Linked DNA regions of Homo sapiens: region 1 is linked to region 2. Evidence: fine-mapped expression QTL. A gene starts in region 2. The other region holds a variant in brackets. All regions are shown on one strand. Distances are from middle to middle.

Region 1 (10,869 bases), 64 kb before region 2:
ATGAAGACCTAACCTGCTTGACAGGAAGGGCTGCCTGGAGGCTGCCGAGAGCAGGGGCACAGTGACCCTGCATCGGGTAAGAGGCGGTGTAAAAGCAGGAGGGGCTGTCCAGAGGTCTGGCTCTGTGCCAGAAATGACAGCTGCCCTTTCTGGAGCCTTAGCTGTATTTTAAGTAGTGTATATGTACGAGTTCATTCGTCCTCACAACAGCCTTCTGTGGTCATTACTTCCGTTATCCTCACTTTACCTACAAGGACCCTGAGGCACAGGGTGGTTGGGCAGCGTCCATTAGGTCTCACAGGTGGAAAGCATCAGCCAGGATTCCAACCCAGGCAGTTAGGATCATCTGGGGTCCCTGAACTTAACCAGCTGGCCATATTGAGACCTGTGAGGCATGGTTTGTTGTTGGATGACACAGGAGGGAAGAGCCTGCAATAATTTTACATGACTTCAGGTTTCTTTGGGTTCATTTGCTTAGCAAATTCATTGAACACCTTCTATACACGAGGTATGAATACGGTGAATACATATTCATTCCACAAGCATTTTTTTTTCCTTTTTTGAGACGGAGTCTCACTCTGTCACCTAGGCTAGAGTGCAGTGGCGCTATCTCGGCTCACGGCAACCTCCGCCTCCCAGGTTCAAGCGATTCTCCTGCCTCAGCCTCCCGAGTAGCTGGGATTACAGGTGCATGCCACCATGCCCGGCTAATTTTTGTATTTTTAGTAGGGATGTGGTTTCACCATGTTGGCCAGGCTGGTCTCGAACTCCTGACCTCAGGTGATCTACCCACCTCGGCCTCCCAAAGTACTGGGATTACAGGCATGAGCTACTGCACCCAGCTTCCACAAGCATTTTTTTTTTTTTTTGAGACAGAGTCTTGCTCTGTAGCCCAGGCTGGAGTGCAGTGGTACGATCTCGCTCACTGCTACCTCCACCTCCTGGGTCCCGGTTCAAGCAATTCTTCTGCCTCAGCCTCCCGAGTAGCTGGGATTACAGGCACACGCCACCACGCCCAGCTAATTTTTGTACTTTTAGTAGAGACAGGGTTTCACCATGTTGGCCAGGCTGGTCTTGAACTCCTGACCTCATGATCCACCCACCTCAGCCTCCCAAAGTGCTGGGTTTACAGGGTGAGCCACCACGTCCAGCCTCCATAAGCATTTTTAAGATGAAATTTTAGTTTTATAAAAGTTATACATGCTTGTTAGGAAAAAAAAGTATGCAGAAAAATATAAAGAAAAAAAGCACATATGATATCACCATCCAGAGATGATTGTTGTTTAATTTTTTTGTATATGTGCACATATGCATGCCTTTGCAGAATCGGAGTTAGGTTGAATATTCAGTTTTGAATCCTGCTTTTTTCTCTTACCACTATCTTAAACAAGCATTCCTCAGGAGGCTGCTGGTGCTGGCGTTCAGATGAATCCAGTGAAGCAGAGTGCTCACTATTACCACAGAGAAGGGAGGGTGCAGAAGTGGGAAGACAACTCTGGAGTCAGGGTGCTTAGGAAAGTCCTCACAGAGGAGGAGCTGGGTCTTAAAGGAGGGTTCACCGGCCCTGGGTGGGGCCCAGGTAGCAAAAACAGCAAGGTAGAGATCTGGAGGACAGGATTGGAGGCAGGGACGAGTTGTGAAGGGCTTTGCCAGCCGTCCCCAGGGGTTTGAGCTTTATTTACTCTGTAGATGTTGAAGATCCACTCATGGGCTTCAAGTGGTGAGAAACATCGGATTTGCATTTTAGAAAGGTTGCGTTTTTTCTACACACTCTTTCATCCTGTGATGAGTGAATTAGAAGGAAGAAGGCAAAGCTGGGAGACCTTTGGAGTCATCCAGGTGAGACATGATGAGGGCGTGAACCAGAGCAGTGGCAGCAATGAGAAGAGTAATGAAGAGGAGGGGATGGATCCCAAAGATATTTAAGAGGTGGTAAGGGTGGGAGTTAGTAGCTGACTTGGTGGCTTTCCCTTGGCCAGTGGGATGATGGTGGGCATGGCTTAGCCAGGGTCTTGAACCACACTTGTACAGCTAGCCTTGCTCAGCTTTGTGCCTCTGCCCTTGCCATGAGAAGAATATGCCCAGGCAAGTCCACTGGGCCCCGGAGGAGGATGAGAGACAGGTGGAGTGGAGCTACGCTGCCCCAGCCGTCTGCCAACCACAGACATGTGAGCTGTAATAGTAGACGGTAGTTGTTTTAGGCCAGGGTTTTTGAGATGATTTGTTATATGGCGATTGCTAACTAAGAAATGTCTTTATTCTTCTCTTGAATGCTTACTATGTGCTGGGCTTTGTGCCAGGCACTGGGAATACTATGCTGAACCAGGCAGGCAAGGCCCTCACTCTCAGGAACTCATGTTAGGGTGGGGATGTGGCAGAGGAAGCCAGACAGACTTTGAGACCGCTGGTTCTAACTGGGTGCATGGTGGTGCCATTAATTGGGGTGGGGGTCTTAGGAGAGAAACAGGTTTTGGGGAAAAGATAATGGGTTTGATTTTATTTATTTATTTTTTAGAGACAGAGTCTCACTGCATTGTCTAGGCTAGTCTTGAATTCAAGAGTTCTGGGCTCGAGCGATCCTTCTGCCTCTGCCTCCCAAAGTGCTAGGATTACAGGCATAAGCCACCACACCTGCCCATGGGTTTGATTTAGGAAAGGAGTTTGGGATGCCTGTGGGACATTAGGGGGAGCTGTCTAGGGAAGGGCAGGAGCTATAGGTGTAGCACACAGGAAAGAGGTCTGGCCGGGGACAGAAATTCTCAATATAATATTGAAAATAACCTGTAGCAAAGGGAGTGAGACAGAGTAAGTGCTGTAGAAATTCAGAAGAGGAAGAGAAGCCTTGGGACCTGGGGGAATGAAAGAGATTTTGTTCTGAAGGTAACCTGCAAGCTGGTTTATACTCATGGAAGTGAGAGGAGAAAGGCACGCCTAACAGAATGAATAGGACCTGCAAAGGCATGGAGATGAAAGACAGGAAGAGCTGGATTGTGAGGAAAAGGCTGAAGATGTCAATCGGGGCAAGGTCATGAAGAATCTTGAATGGCAGGCCAAGGATGCTGTTGTGTTTCATTAGGAAATAAGGAGATATCGAACATTTTTTTTTTTTTTTTGAGATGGAGTTTCGCTCTTGTTGTCCAGGCTGGAGTGCAATGGTGCGATCGCGACTCACTGCAACCTCCACCTCCCAGGTTCAAGCGGTTCTCCTGTCTCAGCCTCCTAAGTAGCTGGGATTATAGGCGCATGCCACCACATTTCAGCTGAAGCAGGCCTGGTCACATTAATACCTACCCATCCATTGTTTTTTTGTATTTTTAGTAGAGACAGGGTTTCATCATTTTGGTCAGGCTGGTCTTGAACTCCTGACCTCAGGTGATCTGCCCATCTCCGCCTCCCAAAGTGCTGGGATTACAGGCGTGAGCCACTGTGCCCAGCCACTATCGAGCATTTTTGAGCAGGGGAGAGACATTTGGTACGTATGTCTAAGAGATGGGCAGTCATGTGCAGGGGATGAGTTCTGCAGTAGAAAGCAAGAGATATTGGTTCTAATCTCAGCTCTTCCATTTACTGGCCCTGGGATATGGGGTAAATAATGTCCCCTCTCTGAGCTCTGTCTCACTGCAAAAAAATGGGAGTAAAATTTTCTGACCTTCACATGAATCTTTTTTATTTTATTTATAAATATATTTTTTGGAGAGGAAGTCTTGCTCTGTTGCCCAGGCTGGAGTGCAGTGGCATGATCTTGGCTCACTGCAACCTCCGCCTCCTGGGTTCAAGCAATTTTTCTGCCTCAGCCTCCCAAGTAGCTGAGACTACAGGTGCATGCCACCACACCCAGCTAATTTTTGTATTTTTAGTAGAGACAGGGTTTCACCATGTCGGCCAGGTTGTTCTCAAACTCCTGACCTCAGGTGATCCACCCGCCTCAGCCTCTCACAGTTCTGGGATTACAGGTGTGAGCCACTGCGCCCAGCCTGAATTTTAATTATGTAAGAACCATGACAAAATGCGAACGAAGTGCTTGGAAGACCACAGAGCAATGCACAAGGCTGGGTAGGTATTAATGTGACCAGGCCTGCTTCAGCTGAAATGTGAGGCTGGAATTCCCAGACAGGTGTGCATACTACAGATGCCATTTCCTTAACCTCTGTCTTTTCTCCCACCTTGGAGAGGGGATCGACAGAGATGTGAAGCCATTAGCAGCTGGCAGAGCTGGGATTTATGTTCTCAAGCCCTACCTTCCCATTCTTGATGCAGTCCCACACCTCCCTCCACATGAACAGGACATGTCATTTAGAGAGGGCCTGCCCAGGACGGGCCTGCGTCAAGGCCACAAAGCACTGGCCTGTGCAACAGTCACTATCCTCAAGGAGTTCACATGCTAGTTGGATCATGAGAGCACATACCTCAAAAAGCCATTGGGGTGGCACCTGATAATGGGCCAGGTAAGTGGTGCAGACAGTCGCTGGTGGAGGGTGAGGAGAAAGTAGAGAGAAGCAGCATGGGAGCCGGGCGTTGAAGACTGGTGGGGTTTAAAAGAGGGGAGGGGAAAGGAGCCAGAAGGACTGGGGAGGACTCTTTCCTGTGTCAATCCATTGGTTTCCCCTCAGCACTGAAACCAAACACCAAAACCCCATTTAATGGAGCAAAGACAAATGTGACCACAATGAGAGAACCACCTCACACCCATTAGGATGGCCATTATAAAAACAAAACAGAAAATAACAAGTGTTTGGGGTGGATGTGGAGAAATTGGAACCCTTGTACATTGCTGATGGGGAATGTAAAATGGTGTGGCCACTGTGGAAAACAGCACAGTGGTTCCTCAGAAAGTTAACCATAGAATTACCATATGATCCAGTATTTCCACTTCTGCATATGTACTTGAAAGAGTTGAGAGCAGGGACTCAGACAGACCTTTGTACACCCGTGTTCATAGCAGCCTTATTTTGAGTAGCCAAAAGGTAGAAGCAACCCAGGTGTCCATCAATGGATGAATGGATAAACAAAATATGGTGATATATACAATGGAATATGATTCCGCCTTTAAAAGGAAGGAAATTCTGGCTGGGCACAGTGGCTCACGCCTGTAATCCTAGCACTTTGGGAGGCCAAGGCGGGCGGATCACCTGAGCTCAGGGGCTTGTGACCAGCTTGGGCAACATGGTGAAACCTCGTCTCTACTAAAATTCAAAAATTAGCCGGGCATGATGGTGTGTGCCTGTAGTCCCAGCTACTCAGGAGTCTGAGACAGGAGAATCGCTTGAACCCAGGAGGCGGAGGTTGCAGTGAGCCAAGATTGCGCCACTGCACTCCAGCCTGGACGACAGAGCGAGACTCCGTCACAAAAAAAAAAAAAAAAAAAGAAGGAAATTCTGACATGTGCTGCAACATGGATGAACCTTAAAGACATTAGGCTAAGTGAAAGCTAAGCCAGTTATGCTAAGCCAGTCACAAAAGGACAGTGTTTGTATGATTCCACTTATATGAGGCACCCAGAGTAGTCAAATTCATAGAGACAGAAAATAGAATAGTGGTTGCCAGGGGCTGAGGGTATGGGGAATGGGAGTTTGTATTTAATGGATACAAAGTTTCTGTTTGGGACAATGAAAAAGTTCTGGAGATGGTTGGTGGTGACAGTTGCACAACAATGTGAATGTACTTAAGACCACTGAATTGTACACTTACACATGGTTAAAAAATGGCATGCACACACACAAGGACAAATGTGATGAGTCACTTACATCTCAGAAATATGAGTGACATGGAACTGTTTGAGAAGAAGTGGAGGAAGAAATGGGGTCCCCAGTGGATAGGCCTGCTGAGAAATCAGCAAGTAGTCTAGAAATGGGGCTGATTGGTGCAGCAGGCCAGCCGACTCTTCAACTGACCACAGATAATCCAAAAAAGCTCTAGGGAGTACAGACACCTCCCTCTAAGTAGCATTTGGGTAGAGTTGCAGAGAAGTCAGTGGGGTGGGTGGGTTATTCTGTTCTTTGCTCTGTTTTTTTTTTGTTTTGTTTTTTTGGAGACAGAGTCTCACTCTGTCTCCCAGGCTGGAGTGCAGTGGCGCAATCTTGGCTCACTCCAACCTCTGCCTTGCGGGTTCAAGCGATTCTTCTGCCTCAGCTTCCCAAGTAGCTGGGATTACAGGAGCGGGCCACCACGCCAGGCTAATTTTTGTATTTTTAGTAGAGACGGGGTTTCACCATGATGGCCAGGCTGGTTTGGAACTCCTGACCTCAAGTGATCCGCCGCCTCGGCCTCCCAAAGCGCAGGGATTATAGGCGTGAGCCACCGCGCCCGGCCCTCACCTGTCTCTCTTGCGCC[C/G]CCCGCAGCCAGCCCCAGTCGGCGCCATGGCGTCTGCCGAGCCCCTGACGGCGCTGTCCCGCTGGTACCTGTATGCCATCCACGGCTACTTCTGCGAGGTGATGTTCACAGCGGCCTGGGAGTTCGTGGTGAACTTGAACTGGAAGTTCCCTGGGGTCACGAGCGTGTGGGCCCTCTTCATCTACGGCACCTCCATCCTCATCGTGGAGCGCATGTACCTGCGGCTGCGCGGCCGCTGCCCGCTGCTCCTGCGCTGCCTCATCTACACGCTCTGGACCTACCTGTGGGAGTTCACCACCGGCTTCATCCTGCGCCAGTTCAACGCCTGCCCCTGGGACTACTCCCAGTTCGACTTTGACTTCATGGGCCTCATCACCCTGGAGTACGCCGTGCCCTGGTTCTGCGGGGCCCTCATCATGGAGCAGTTCATCATCCGCAACACCCTCCGCCTCCGCTTCGACAAGGACGCTGAGCCCGGGGAGCCCAGCGGCGCCCTAGCCCTGGCCAACGGCCATGTCAAGACTGACTGAGCAGGAAGCGGGTGGGGGGCCTGGGGATCTCTCATGGAACTCATGGACAAAGAGACCAAGCTGGTGAGGTTGCCCCATCCATGCAGCAAAAGCCCTGCTCCGGCCAAGCCTCAGCCCTATAGGGCACACAGAGCCCCCTAACGTCCGCGGGGGCCGGTGTTGGGGGGCCGTGGTCAGGTGTTGGGGGATGGGGTGTGGAGGCAGCAGAGGGACATTGGGAAGGGTCCATGGATCGCGGCCCAGTTCAGGGGTTGGTACCAGGAGGCCTGTGGCTGAGCAGCGATGGACTATGTAGTTGACTTTGGAAGCAGCAGGCCCTGTCCTGGCCAAGGGACAATGAGAATGGGGCCGCAGGTGGGAGGCAAGGCCTGACCTCCCTCCCTCCGATCTGGATTTAGTTGAGCTTTGGCTGGTTCCATTAGGCAATATTCAGGTGCTTGCTTGCAACCAATACCTCCCCAGGGGCCTGCTGAGCTGCAGCCGAGGAGAGACTGGGCAGCCAGGAGGCTGCGTGGCAGCAACGCTGGTCTGCAAGGGCTGGGAGACCCTCCCTTGGCTCCTCTCCCCTCCCCCAGGGCCCTGCGCTGCTCCCTTGGCCTTCTGGGGCCCCCGTGGTGCTGGATTCCCACCAACCTTGGGCTTTTGGAGGTTTCAATCCCCGTGTGTTCGGTGGCGTTTCCCCCTTTTCTGTCTTGTTTTCAAAGCCTTTACCACTAGCGGCTCTTTATCCACGTCGGTCGCCACACCTGCCCCACCCCAGCTCCCTAGCCAGCACAGGAGCTGCCGGAGATGAAGCCCTGAGACACCCCCAACCCTCACCCCCTTGCAGCCCTTCCCTCCACTGTTCCGGCTGGCCTGATGCCTGGGGAGTTCCTGAGTTACACCTCCCTACCCCCGGTCTAGTGGGCTGTGGCAGTGCTCCCTTCTCAGTGGCTCAGCTGAGAACAAATGATGCCCTCCAATGCACAGGCAGGCTGGGTTAGGCCCTGTGGATCCACAGTGGGGACCTAGAGGCAAGTCAGTTTGGTGGGGAAAAGCCAGAGTTCTAGGTCATCTATTCCCTGCCTGGTTTATTTTCAAGCCAAAACTGAGCAGTCTAGCTTTCTATGGGATGGAGAAGCCAGGTATCCAGCATTGGAGACTGATGGAGAATGAGAGGAAGAAAGAGAGGAGGACCTTGCAGCTGTGGAAGGCTCCTTGGAGCCTCCTTTGTGGGAGGGTATCAGTTCTGGTTCTGCCAGAGCCTCAGCCCTGGTAGCAGAACCTCAGGGCTGCCCCTCTCCCCAAACTCCTCCCAGCAAGGCTGACCCTTTGAGCTCACTCCTTAAACAGTATTAACCCTGCCACACTCATGGGCATTGGCACCTTGGTTCCCCTGCCCCACTTTGTCCTGTGACAGGTCCATTGCTGGCAGTGGACAGGTGAAATACTCACTCCAGCCTACTTCCGGCTCTGACTCTCACTCCTCAAGGGGAAGGGTCCGTTAGAAAGTGGCCCACCCCATGGTACATGGTCTCTTCTTGACCACACTAGGACTCTTAGGTAGAAATTAGCCTTCCCCTTTTTATGGATCATTACAAAGTGACGGTATCACCTGTGGAGAGAATGTCCTCTTCCCTGCTGGCTGCCCTGCCCATACTGTGCAGGGTGTGGTGGGGTGCAGGGTGTGGTGGGGTGGGCCACAGTTGTGTCCTAGGTCTGGAGAAAAGCTTGCAGACTCTGCCTTTGGCAGGATTTTCTGCAGTTAGCCCCGTCCAGAGCAGAACGAAGGGTATTTCCTAGCCTATTTCCTGGGCAGGCTCCTCAAATCCAGGGATGAACTACTTTCTGCAGTGGCCAGCCCTCCTTTTGATTTTATTGTGGCCCCAATTCCAGGGCTTTGGGGGTTACAGAGAATCAGGCTTCCGGTGGGAGTAGATTGTTTTCCATCTATAGGTGGAGAAAATTCCAGGAGGAGAATATTGTCTGGCTTCCCCGTTCTCTCTGGGCAATTGTTTCCTTGGTTCTCTCTCCAACTCCATGTTGTCTTAGTCTCCCAGCACCCCTTCAGGCCTTCCATGTGGGCCCCTAGACCACACTACCCACCTTCACACTTGCATTCCACAACTCAGTCCAGTGGCCAGCTTGTTGATGCCTCCATAATTCTCAGCCAGAGCAAATCCTTGATTGGCCCACCAGGTCTTGCTGCTCCAGAAGTTGCCTTGTGGGCATTCCCTGGCACCATTTCCTCTCTGGGTCCTATACTTTCCCAAGTGCAGGAGGTCCTGGGGGTATGCCTGTGTGCCTGGCAACATCCAGCATTGTGTTTCTGCTCCATCTAGGTGTCCCATTTCTCCAGTTGCCCCTCATAAGGCATCAAACCTCCAGCAAAGGAAGGCAACAACCCATGGCCTGACCACGGGATCTACAGGTTCAGATCTCACCAGGGATAGCCCAGACTTCAATTCTTGCTTTTTTGGGTATCAGGGCCCCAATCCCTTAGTGGCCAGGGACTCAAAGTTTGGAATAATCCCAGCCCTGCCAAGCATTAAGGGTGCTGGTGGGGAGTGTTTGCTGGCTGTTCATGAACCTCTGGTGTCCTGGGCCTCTCTCCACTAGACATGGCAGCATCTCTGAGTTACAGATTGCAATGTGTTGCCCTGCATGGTTGAACTGCTTCGGACATCTGCTAGGCATCCCATGTGCCCTGTCCCCTCTTCAATGCCAGTGAGTCACAATGGCCTATGCTTATTCACAGCAATAATACCTAGGGAGTCCCCATGAAGCCCTTTTGTCCTGGTCCCTCACTCTGCGTGGGTCTCCTGGGGAGGCAGCTGCTGAGTGGGTCAGTTCATGAGAACCTGCATTTATGAAGCCCTGGGCTGTGTAGGCATCACCCTGGGATGCAGACAGGTTAGAGGCCCAGCCCTTAGGGGAGCCATGGCAGGGAGAGTGCCTTCCACCCTGAGGCCACCCAGACCTGGAGGAGATGCAGGCCCCAGCTCTGCTAAAGGGCCTTTGAGGTGGGTGGGACTGTCTCCCAGTTGGGCAGCTCTTGAGAAGGACACACGACCGGTTTGTGCGCCCATTGCCTGCTCTGTGTCTCCGTTGGTCCCTCTGTCTCTTCCTTTTCACATTTGTGCACATAAAATATACTGGTGTTTGTGTTCCAGGACTGGCTCTGGCCCATCTGTTTTTCCTCTTTTGGAGCCACTTTCTCAGGGGCTCCTGGAGGCCAGGCCCTTTGCACCCTGGCATCATGCCCTCCTGAACTAAGAGGGCTGCTGGGCGGGGCTGCCCTGTGGAGGGGGCAAGTGACACTCCCTGCCAATCCTTCTTGCTGTCTCTACTCTGACACTCTCTGGTAACCTGAATTCACACCCTGACCCCAATTCTCAGGTGGCATAATGTGATCCAGGCCTTACTTTGGTGCCACGCTCCCAGGCAGAGGGGGATCTCAGGCAGTATCCAGGTTGACTGCAGGTTGGCTGCAGTTGCCCATGAGACGAGCTCCTCCTGGAAACACCAGCCATGACCTGAGACATCTCATGAGGCAGGAGGGACCAAGCAGGGTGGCTGAGGGTACCCCCAAAGACATGGAAGGCCAGAGCCCTTTACTTTGAAAGTGATGTTACACTGAAAGTCATGCTTCGAAAAAACAGCTCTGCACTCCTCCCTGGCAGCCCTGTTTTGTTGGAGAAGTGCATTTGGAGGGAGTAATCTCTCCCCCTTTATGTACCTCTGCTCCATTGAGCTTCCCTGTCCTCCCACCACCACCACCACCACCACCACCAGGCCGCTGCCCACTTTCCTCCTTCCAGGAAGAGGATGGAGGGTTCAGAAGTTGCTCAGTCAGGCTGGGCATGGTGGCTCACACCTGTAAACCCAGCACTTTGAGAGGCTGAAGCAGGAGGATTACTTGAGCCCAGGAGTTTGAGACCAGCCTGGGCAACATACAGAGACCACCATCTCTACAAAAAAAAAAAAAAAAAAAAAAAAAGCCAGGCATGGTGGCACACACTTATAATTC
Region 2 (12,041 bases):
TGTCCCAGGCACCGCACTACATAATTTATTGTCATAATCTCATTTATTTTCCCCAAACAACTCTTTGTATGCTATTAGCCCATATTAGAGATGAGGAACTTGAGGATCAGAGAGGATAAGTAACTTGCCATCAGTAACATGGGTGGCATAGGAAGGGTTTGAACCCATGCTATAGATTCCAGAACCCATACTCAAGAGCAGTGCTGTTCAAGAGTGATCTGGTACTGCTCTATGATGAAAGAATGGGAACTGAGAGTCAGTGCTTGGAAACTTTTATAGCAGCTGGGCATTACCACAACATTCAAGCACACAGTCCGTGGTCTTGATTCACTGAACAGAATATAGACCAGTTTGGGTGACGTAGAAGTCTCCAATAAGTCACTTGTGGCAGAGGCTGTTTTCTGGTCATGCACAGTAGGACCACTCAATGTTCACAGCTCAGAAGTCCAGTCTTCACCACAGATAGTGTGAGAAGCCTCACCTTTATGGTGGAGCATCTGCCCTGTGAACTGCAGTGTCCCCGGAATTAGTACAAAAGATGCTGTTAATCAACAATGCTGCTGTTAATGGAAAAGATACCTTGTTTACACTGACATATGAGGCCCCAGGGCAGGTCTGTGTGTCACCCATGGCACTGTCCGTGCTTTGTACACGGACATTCTCAGTATCTGTCTCCCTGCTTCAGTGAATGAATGAATGAATTGACAGATGAATGAATATACATTTCTGTTGTAGCAGAGCAACTAGCTGGATGGCCTTGGGCATAGCCACGAATTAGGCAAAATTTCTCTTTAGTCTTTTCCTGCCTGTACTTCTAGCTCCTGTCTCCTCTGGCTTTTTGCCTCTGCCCAATCTTTTCAGTGCCTTCAGGGTGCTCTCCTGGCTGCCCGGGACCCCACACGCCCTCCTTTTCCTACAAATGATGCGCTACTCTGGGACTTCACCGCCCAGTTCTCTAGCAGTTTTCCAGCAACTTCTCAGTTCTGAGTCTCTTCCAGGGGACGTCCCTCTAGCTGGCCGTCCCCCAGGTAGCAGGGCTCAGCCTTGACTGAGATAACACACAGCTTACGCAAGTGGGGGTTGTCCCTGCTGGTTCTGAGAAAATCAGCAAAGCTTTCTACTCAAAGCATGATGTGGGCTGATAAAAAATAAATAAGCAAATACATTTTTAAAATCAGCAAAGCTTCTTGTTTAATTATCTTAAGTTTCAAGGTACATGTGCGGGATGTGCAGGTTTGTTACACAGGTAAATGTGTGCCATGGTGGTTTGCTGCACCTATCAACCCATCACCTAGGTATTAAGCCCAACATGCACTAGCTATTTTTCCTGATGCTCTCCCTCCCGCCACATCCCCTGACAGGCCCCAGTGTGTGTTATTCCCCTCCCTGTGTCCATGTGATCTCAATGTCCAGCTCCCACATACAAGTGAGACCATGCGATGTTTGGTTTTCTGTTCCTGTGTTAGTTTGCTGAGGATAATGGCTTCCAGCTTCATCCAAGTCCCTGCAACGGACATGATCTTATTCCTGTTTTTGGCTGCATAGTATTCCATGGTGTATACGTACCACATTTTCTTTATCCAGTCTAACATTGATGGGCATTTGGGTTGATTCCATGTCTTTGCTATTGTGAATAGTGCTGCAATGAACATACACATGCATGTATCTTTATAATAGAATGATGTATATTCCTGAAAATACTATACTGAATGCTGGCGTAGACGCAGTGAGACTGGCATTGTCATACGCTGCTGGTGAGGATAGCATGTGATACATTTCTAGAAAGCAGTTTTGTGATATGCTTCAAGAATTTTAAAAATTTACACCCTTTAACCTAAAATTATACCTTAGATGTTTATCTGAAATAATCAGAGATCTGGCAAAATGTGTATGTACAGAGATATTTATCATAATACTATTTACACAGTGAAAAAGGAAATTCAACCTACATGGGAATGATTAAATTCAGTCACCATGAAATTTTATGCAGTTATTTAAATTATGTTTTTGAATTACTTTTAATGACCTGGTAAGATACTTATTAGCTATTATAAGTTAAAAAAAAAGGCAGGGTTCAAAAATTTTAAATAAAATTTAATTTAAAAGTATGTGCATATAAACATACTGATCATCTGTCTGAGTGATAGATTCAGGGTGGTTTTATCCCTTTTGGTATTTTCTAAATATTCTATAATATGCACAAATGTATTTTTATGTTCAGAAAAAAATGTAGAAGGATTTTTTGAAGTCTTTTCCAGTTCTGCAGACAGAGCCCTTCCAGGCCTGCAGCCCCCCTCTCACTGCAGGATGCTCTGATGCAGGTCGCTGCTGGGGGCATTGCCCTGTATTTGCCAGGAGCCAGCCTTGAGCTCTGTTAGCCTGTATTCTGGCCCTGGTTTTACCACTAACTGGCTGCAAGACCTTGGACAAGTCATTTTATTTCCCTGGGCTTTGAGGGTCCTCATTTATAAAATGAAGCATCCGGATTTGGTGATCTTTAGGGATTAGATTCTGATTCTGTGATTCCGGTAAACTCAAGAAGTCCAGGCATTTATTGTGAATAAGTTTCCATGATTTATCCTTTTCCACTCTATGTATCTTAAACAGGGGATTCTTATCTGAAGCTAAAGGAATGAATCTCTAATGATAGATTCTCACATCAGGCTGTGAGTCACCTATACTTAAACACAGACCTAATAGTTTTCTGCAACTCAGCACCCTAGGCATTATCTGTCCCTGTCCCTTCGGGACAAAAAGGGGAGGAGCTGAGAGGGCCAGGGACCCTTCCACATCAGCCTCCAGGCCTGAGAGGGAGAGGAGGGGTGTCTCTCTGAAAGCTTCTTGCTCGTCCCTGCCCCCTCCCCCAGCTGTTTACTGCTGTCTGCTTCCTTCTGTCTCCATCCTCTTCCCTATGGGTGAGTTGGGCTTATGTCATCATGGTTCCCTGGTGGGCTGGTGGCTCAGCCACCACAGCCTGGGGAAGGAAGGGGTATGACTCATGCCCCAGATCCAGTGAGTCAGGCAGGGTGGGCTGGACCAGGGGTTTCCTAGGACAGGAAGCAGGTTCTAGGTGTGCCTTAACTTCTTCCTGGCAGGAGCCCTGCCAGGAGAAGGTATCCATCTCTTTCCCATTCCCATTTCTGTGAATTCATTCAAGAACCCCTCCTGCCAAAGAAAATGCCACTTCTTCTAAGCCTCAGAAGATTGTGTCTGGGTGGGGCCAAGACAGCCTCTTTGAGGAAGGAGATGGATAGACCACAGTTAGAGCCGAAGAGGATGAGAACTTCCCAGCTCAACCTCTCAAGTCCTGGCTTTCAGCCCAGCTAGGTTTCAGAGCTGGGACAATTCCTTAGGAGGCAAGAGTATTTGCAATGCCCTGGAGCTGCATAACCTTGGGCAAGTTATTTAACTACTTGGATTCAGTTTCCTTGACTGGAAAATGACATAATAAACACCTCATGGGGTTGTTGTACTTTAGATAAAACCTAGCACCTACTACTACAGGCCTGGCTTCAGAAGGTGACCAGCTGATGTTCATTCTGAATTGGAATGGAAGCCCCACTGCTTTGGGGCTTCCTGGGAAGTCTGAAGGCCAGTTAGTGCAGAAGGCTAGAGTGGGCCATTGGGCTGGCACGCAGTGACCCAGACCCTGCGAGTTTTCCTTGGGGCTGGCAGGTGGGAGTGGGGTTGGGGGGATGTAATATGTCTACTACAGACATGTAGAAGCAACACTGTGTCAAGAGCTCCAGGGCAGGGACTGGCCTGGGAGCTGGCTTCAGTCTGGTTCTGAAAGGCACCCCCCGCCTTCCACAAGCTGGTTCACCTTCTTCCTCTCTAGAGCCTTCTCTTCCCTTACAGGCATCTGAGGGCCTTTCCCATGCCTGGTGAAGAGTCCTGACAGGGCCCTTCAAACTGGAGCACAAATAATATGGACCGGCCCCATGACTCATGCCCACAATCCCAGCACTTTGGGAGGCTGAGGCAGGAGGACTGCTTGAGCCCAGGAGTTCGAGACCAGTCTGGACAATATAGTGAGACCCTGTCTCTATAAATAAAAATAAATTTTAAAAAAATGTGTGACTGTGTTCTAAGGATTGTTAGACAGAATCAGTACTATTTGACTGAGTTTCCTTCTGTTCCAGGCTCCAATATGGCCTGATAGAACATTGTTGTTGATCCTATCTATTTAAAATGTTAGCATTTTGTTCATCGTGGATTTTTTGACATTAATTTTGATTTTAAAAAATGCATTAAAATATTATTTTTCTAGGTCTTACACGGTGGCTCTTGCCTGTAATCCCAGCACTTTGGGAAGCCCAGGCCGGAGGATTGCTTGAGGCCAGGAATCAAGACCAGCCTGGGCAACATAGCAACACCCTATCTCTACGAAAAATAAAAATAAACCAGCCAGGCATGGTGGTGCACTCCTGTAGTCCTAGCTACTTGGGGAGCTGAGGCAGGAGGATCTTAAGCCCAGAGTTTAAGGCTGCAGTGAGCTATGATCACACCACTGCACTCCAGCCTGGGTGACAGAGAAAGACCCTGTCTCAAAAAACAAACAAAAAACCCCAAAAAACCAATCATCTCTCTCTATATATAATTTGTCTAGGTTACTGGACTCCTTGGTGCCCCCTTAAATTTTGTCCTTAATGATGGAATTTTCGGCTTCATCTTTTTTGAGGGAGCGGGGTATATCCTGCGGACAGGGGGCCCTGCAAACTGTGCCTGCCGCCTTAAAACTGTGACCTTCCTGTTACTGAGAGGTCTTCTCTGCCCCCATCAGAGGCCAGGATAAAATTCCCATACCAGTTTCGGCTCACCCACTGTCCCATCTCCTACTTGCAATGAGCTCAGGAATGGCTCCAAATCCTGGAGTCCTGTCGGTTATGTTCAATTCGATAAGCGTTCCTCGAGGGCAATGCGCTAAGTGCCCGGGAAGCACCTGGCGAAGGACGCTGAGCAGAGAGACTGGAACAGTGAGGGGCGCGGGGCGCACCTGGATGGGGCGGGGTTGGCCGCTCTGTACCTGGAGGACCAACCACCGACCCTGGAGCACCTTTGGGTGGAAACGTCACGTCAGAAATCCCGACTTGGTCTGACTTCCTGCCCCGGGGCCTCAGGCTCTGGACACGCGCCAGGGAGGCGTCGCCCTGCCGCGTCGGAGCTGCTTCCTGGGCGCCGTGGGCGCGGACTGCGCGGGCTGCGCGGGTGCCGAGGAGCGCGAGGCGCGGGGAAGGCGCACCTGGGGTGGCCCTGGCGTGCGGGCGGCGACATGGAGGACGGCGTGCTCAAGGAGGGCTTCCTGGTCAAGAGGGTGAGTGCGCGTCGAGCTTCGGGACATTGCCCGGGTGGGGCCCCGCCGACGCGGCTCCCTAGAGCGGGGCCAGACGCGCGCCCCGGAACGGGCATGCTCTGGTTCCCATCCCCAACCCCCATGGTGGGACCGGGCCGCCTGTGGCCCTGATGGGCAGAGCTGCATGTCCGAGGGGACGCGGGGTAAGCGGTGGCTCAGCGCACAGGCAAGGAGGAGAATCCCACTTGGTTAGCGCAGTATGGAGTCGGGGCAGGGGTACTGAAGCGTGTGTCTTAATTAAAACTTGTTAAAATATTATGAATGGTATGATATTTAAATAATATTTACTAAGATAATATAGGCGTGCTCTGTAATTTACAACCTGTGAAGGAGGAATGCTACTATGTGTCTTAAGCACTTACTGTTGGCCAGCCCTGGATATTGTCTCATGTCATCCTCCCAGCAGCCCTGCTTTCATCAAGGGGGAAAACGAAGCCCAGAGGAGTTAGGGAACTTGCTCGGGGCGGTGAAGGCAGTGGGTGGTGGAGCCAGGATCGGGATCAGACCCACTCAGGTTGACCCAAACCTTTACTGCCTCCCCAGTGCCATACACGGTGGGTACTGACATCACTCTATTACAGACGGGGAAACTGAGGACCAGAAAGATGAAGTAGCTTGCCCAGAGCTCCAGAGCCAGTAATAGCTGGGACAGGAACTGCATGTTCTGACCTCCCCTCCTCAGTCCTTCCCCACCACCCCAGGTGGCCCAGGGCAAACGAGTGCAAACAAAAACTCAGTGCCTGGGATTATGGTAGAAGATGAACAAAAGAGCAGCTGCAAAAGGAAGTTTGTTATTTCAAAATTTTTTCCTGATTTGACCTTTTTTTTTTTTTTTTTTTTTTGAGACAGGGTCACCCAGGCTGGAGTGCAGTGGCACAATCCTGGCTCACCACAGCCTCGACTTCCCAGGCTCAGGTGGTCCTCTCACCTCAGCTTCCCTAGTAGCTGGGACTACAGGTATCCACTACTATGCCCAGCTAATTTTTGTATTTTTTTGTGGAGACAGGGTTTCGCCATGTTTCCCAGGCAGGTCTTGAACTCCCGGGTTTAAGTCATCTGCCCACCTTAGCCTCCCAAGGTGCTGGGATAACAGGCGTGAGCCACCACACAGAGCGTAATTTGAACAATGACATTAACACTAACCATTTATACTGCTATGATGGCATAGCAAAGAGACATATAAATCCAGGGCTGAGCTTTCTGGTTCTTCTACTGAGTTTTCAGCTTTGGGAGGGGAATGAAGAGGGATGAGGGGCCCTTCCTTTCATTGCCTCCCGGGGTGGCTGGATCAGCCCTAAAGTCTCACATCACTTTCATTTTCCCCACAAAATGTGTCCACATGATGTTGCACGTTATTTGGTACAGGAGAGCGGTGGCTGTTTGCTGTAAACAGTAAGCAAGGAGGGTAGAAGCTGATGCCAGATCAAGGGTCAGACTGGATAGAGCAGTACAAAGCGCCACGCCCACTTGCCACTGTGGCTGAACTGATAGGCCGGTTTCTCGCAGCATGTGGAGGTGGCTGCACCTCAGACTACACATGGGGAGCTCCTAATCTCACATTTAACTGCGGCTTGGGAGGTGGGAGGGAGAGTGAGAGCTGGGCACGGGGCTTTTTGTTGGCACTGTTGATATAGCTGGGCCCTGGTAGAGCCTGTGGAGGGATGAAGTTAACATGGAGACAGATCCTTCTGATAGAGCTTTGGGAGTTTTGGAGGCCTTCTCCTGTTCCTGGGGGTTACCTTCCATCATTCCCTATCACCCCCACCATGCTGAGAGTCAGAGGAGGGCTAAGGGCAGAGCCACAGAGCTCCCAGGATATCACCAGGAGGATGGGACTTCTCTTCTGGGTGGCCTGGTTAGGGAATCCAGGGTGCAGAAAATGAGGAGAGTCAACAGATCTGGTCCCCGTAAGCCCTTGGAAAAGACGGGGCTTGGCTGAAATACCTAGAGCTCATTCCAGCCAGACCCAAAGACTGGGATGGAGCCTGACCCTGAGGCAAGCAGAAGTCACACCCCTCCCTGCAGGCTGAAGGATAGGGCCCCAGAACCCTGTTGTGGTCCCAGTCTGCTGAGTAATCCCAACTTTTTCAACCCTCCATATCCCCTCTACTCTTAGATGGCAATAGCATTCCCTATGTCCACTGGAGAAGTTGCAGGCTGTGGCAGGGGGATTCCATAGTCTTAGGAGAGTTAAGAGCTCAGAGGTGGGGCAGGGCCTGCGTTGGAAGCCGGAGTGCAGAGCAGTCATCACCGGTGAAAGCGAAGCCAGAGACAGGCAGGGACATGATAGAGTTGGCTCTTAATCCCACCCAGACGAGAAAGAAGCAGAGTTCCAGGCAAAATGCAAGGAGCTCACTGGGCCTGGCTGTCAGGGGAGTGGGGAGAGGGAAGTGGGGGATGAGCCGTGAGCAGGAGTGCTTTTCCTGGGAGAAGAGACAGAAGCACTGCCGGGCGTTCCTGCTGGGCTCATATTGTGAATAACATTGCAATGTGAACATGCTCTGGCCTAGAGATTTTATGTGCAGGGCTCTATCCTTTTTTGTAAAGCTCTGTAAAAGCTTTATAACAAAGAGTTATTTTTATTTTATTTTGTATTTTTGTAGAGATGAGGTCTCACTCTGTTGCCCAGGCTGGTCTCAAACTCCTGGCTCAAGTGATCCCCTGGCCTTGGCCTCCCAGAGTGCTGAGATTAGAGGTGTGAGTCACCACACCCCCCTGTTACTTATTTATTTTGTTTAGAGAGGGTCTCACTCTGTTGCCCAGGCTGGAGTACAGTGGCATCAGCAAGGCTCACTGCAGCCTTGACCTCCCAGGCTCAAGCAATCCTCCTGCCTCAGCCTCCCTAGTAGCTGGGACTACAGGTACATGTTACCACACCCAGCTAATGTTTTGTTTTTTGCTTTTTTTTTATTTCTTTTTTTTTTTTTATAGCGACAATGTCTCACCATGTTGCCCAGGCTGGTCTTGAACTCCTGGGCTCAAGCGATCCTCCCACCTTGGCCTCTCTAAGTGCTGGGATTATAGGCGCCTGGCCAATAAAGGATCATTTATGTGGCGAAAAAACTGAAAACCACCTGTCTGTCCCCACCAAATGACTAATTAAATTATGGTTATGCAGATGTTGAATATGTTTATAGTATTAAAATCCGAAGAGTAAAGTGATAAAATGTATGAGTAAAGAAAAAATATGCGTAGAAGAAAAAGAGCAGAAGGAGTTCTGGAGGCTAGAGGTGCAAAATCAAGGTGTTGCCAGGGCCGTGCTGCCTCTGAAACTTGTAGAGGAGGATCCTTCCTAGCTTCTGGTGTTTGCAGGCAACCCTTGGCATTCCCTGGCTTCTAAATACTTCAGTGCAACCACTGTCTCTGTTGTCACGTGACCATCCTCTCCCTATGTGTCTCTTAGTGTCCAAATTTTCCTCTTCCTATAAGGACACCAGTCAATTGGATTAGTGCCCATTCTAGTCTAGGGTGACTTCATTTTAACTTGATTACATCTGCAAAGACCCTATTTTCAAATAACATCACACTTACAGGTCCAGAGGTTAGGACTTCAGTGTATCTTTTTTGGGGAAATACAATTCAACCCATAGCAAGTATCATCCCATCTTTGTTTTTTCTTTTTTTATTTTATTTTATTTTATTTTATTTTATTTTATTTTATTTTATTTTATTTTATTTTATTTATTTATTTTGAGACCGAATTTTGCTCTTGTTGCCCAGGCTGGAGTGCAATGGTGCAATCTCGGCTCACTGCAACCTCTGCCTCCCAGGTTCAAGTGATTCTCATGCCTCAGCCTCCTGAGTAGCTGAGATTACAGGCATGCACCACCACGCCCGGTTAATTTTGTATTTTTAGTAGAGACGTGGTTTCTCCGTGTTGGTCAGGCTGGTCTTGAACTCCCAACCTCAGGTGATCCACCCACCTGGCCTCCCAAAGTGCTGGGATTACAGGTGTAAGCCACCATGCCCGGCCCTCTATTTTATTTTATTTTCAAGAGACAATGTCTCAGTATGTTACCCAGGCTGGAGCACAGGGACTGTTCACAGGTGTGATCATAGTGCATTGCAATGTTGAGCTCTTGAGCTCAAGCGAACTTCCTGGCTCAGCCTCCCAAGTAGCTGGGACTACAAGTACACACCACTGGGCCCAGCTGGCATCTCTGCTTTTCTCAGGGTTATAGAGCCTTGGGCAAGACCTTTCTGTGCCTCTGTTTCCTTATCTTTAAAGTTAGGGGTCTGCCGGGTGTGGTGGCTCACACCTGTAAATTCCAACAATGTGGGAGGCCAAAGTGGGAGGATTGCTTGAGGCCAGGAGTTCGAGAGCAGCCTAGGCAACAAAATGAGAACTCATCTCTACAAAAAATAAAATAATTAGCCAGTCATGGTGGTACTCGCTTGTAGTCCCAGCTGCTTGGGAGGCTGAGATGGGAGAATCGCTTGAGCCCAGGGGTTTGAGGCTGCAGTGAGCTATGATCATGCCACTGCACTCCAGCCTCGGCAACCAAATGAGACCCTGCCTCAAAAACATTTTTTTTAATTAAAAAAAAATAAGGTTAGGGGCTGGGCGTGGTGGCTCATGCCTGTAATCCCAGCATTTTAGGAGGCCGAGGTGGGCAGATCACGAGGTCAGGAGTTCGAGACCAGCCTAGACAACATAGTGAAACCCCATCTCTACTAAAAATACAAAAAATTAGCCAGGTGTGGTGATGGGTGCCTCTAATCCCAGCTACTCGGGAGGCTGAGGCAAGAGAATTGCTTGAATCCAAGAGGTGGAGGTTGCAGTGAGCTGAGATCGCACCACAGCACTCTAGCCCGGGCGACAGTGCAAGACTCCGTCTCAAAAAAAAAGTAATAGTAATAAGGAATAAAGGAGGCTTTTTCCTGGGGTCTCTCCAGCTGTAACATTCTGTGTCTCATAAGCCCATCCCTGAGGTGCCATTCCAGCTTATGGGCCCCTCGTCCTTCTCTCCAAAAGGGATCCAGGGAACTCCAAGCACCCCCTGCTTCAGCTGGCCTCTGGTTCCAGCCAGCGGATTACAGACAAGAAACCTAAAAGAGAAGCTACTCTCTGCCCAGGGACAAGTGTCCAGGTGGAGGGAGGCCTGGGTTCTTCTTCAGCATACCATTGTGTTATCGGCCTGTGACTCACTTTGCCTGGTGATTTTAGACCAGTCACTATGCCCTCTGTGCATGGTGTGGTTTATCTGTAGAGCAGAACCGGTGGTGCTTTCCTGCCAGGTTCATGGACTATTCCAGCAGCCTCCAGCTGAGCTCCCCACTCCAGTCTCACCTGCTTCCTTTGGCTATTCTGTTCTGCTGCTGTGTTCGGAGTGATAGGTTTAACATGAGAACGTAAGCTTGCTGTCTTTCTGCTTAAAATCCTCCAAGGACTCCCCTTGAAGATCAAACTTTGTGGCACAGAACCTGAAGCCCTTGCCACCTTGGTCCCCATCACCTCCCCTATGGAGCCCAAGCCATATAGAACCACGGGGAGTCTCCCCAAAGTGGCAGGGGTCCTATGCTCACCCCTCCTTGACTTCCTGACCTGCCTAACTCCACACAACCAGGAAGACTGAGCCCCAGTATCACTCCTGGGAATGTACCTAACCCCACCTCAGCCTCTCCTGAGCTCCTCCTTGGGGTTTGTATCATGCCCTATATTAATTATTGATTGTTGTATAACAAATTATCCCAAAAGTTAGCATTTTTTTTTTTTTTTTGAGATGGAATCTTGCTCTTTCACCGAGGCTGGAGTGCAGTGGCGCCATCTTGGCTCACTGCAACCTCCTCCTCCTGGGTTCAAGTGATTCTTGTGTCTCAGCCTCCTGAGTAGCTGGGACTACAGGCACCCACCACCACGCCCAGCTAATTTTTGAATTTTTAGTAGAGACGGGGTTTAACCTTTTTGGCCAGGCTGGTCTCAAACTCTTGACTTTAAGTGATCTACCTGCCCTCAGCCTACCAAAGTGCTGGGATTACAGGTGTGAGCCACCGTGCCTGGCCAAGCATCTTAAAACAACAAGATTTGTCATCTCACTGTTTCTGAGGGTCAGATATCCAGTAACAGCGTAGCTGCAAGACTGGCTCAGGGTCTCTCGTGAGGCTGCAGCCAAGAGTGACAGTCACCTGAAGGCTTGACTGGCTGTAGGGTCCAATTCTGAGCTCACCTACATGGCTGTTGGCTGGAGGCCTCAGCTCCTCACCTCTCAATTGGGCTGCTTAGGATATGGCAGCTAGCTTTTCCCACAGCAAATAATCAGAAAGAGAGAGAGGGAGAGAGGCAGAGGGAGAAAGAGAGAGAATGCCAATAAGAAGCCTCAGAAGACCTTTATAACCTAATGTCAGAATTGGGATACCATCACTCTGCCATATTGCCATACAGACCAACCCTAGTAAAATGTGGAAGGAGACTATGCAAGGCTGTGAACACCAGAAGGAGGGGATCACTGAGGCCATGCCAGTCATCTGTCCTGGAACTTTTCATACTGGGTGGGGTAGGTGTCTGTCTTCCCCACTGGATTAGGACAGAGTCTTGTTCATCTTTGCCTTGGTGCCATATTATTAATCATTGATTATTAAATGAATGAATGAATGATTTCCCTAATCATCTCATCAGGATTTTTGTGTATTTAAATTTAAATTCATTTTTTCATGATAAAAATAATACATTCATATAAGTAAACAAACT

Direction of the effects. Positions count from the first base shown, and alleles are read on the strand shown. Sizes are in standard deviations (SD) of each study's normalised expression.
With allele C in place of G in region 1, the expression in cerebellar hemisphere of the gene that starts at base 5,167 in region 2 is lower (large effect, 1.1 SD a copy in GTEx).

The links.
Region 1: its variant is fine-mapped to the expression of PLEK2 in cerebellar hemisphere (GTEx, PIP above 0.99). The same link has a PIP of 0.9 or more in anterior cingulate cortex and cerebellum.

What each region holds. Positions count from the first base shown.
Region 1 is chr14:67,469,411-67,480,279 of GRCh38, reverse strand. It overlaps TMEM229B (transmembrane protein 229B), which reads left to right. Exons shown (of 3, transcript NM_001348543.2): 3 at 6,339-10,011. The coding sequence starts at 6,357. The coding sequence ends at 6,860. It also overlaps a transcript of GPHN not described here. Among named protein-coding and RNA genes, the nearest start is that of TMEM229B, 14 kb to the left of the region's middle. The variant C/G (reference allele first, on the strand shown) is at 6,331.
Region 2 is chr14:67,405,291-67,417,331 of GRCh38, reverse strand. It overlaps PLEK2 (pleckstrin 2), which reads left to right and starts at 5,167. Exons shown (of 9, transcript NM_016445.3): 1 at 5,167-5,314. The coding sequence starts at 5,273. It also overlaps a transcript of GPHN not described here.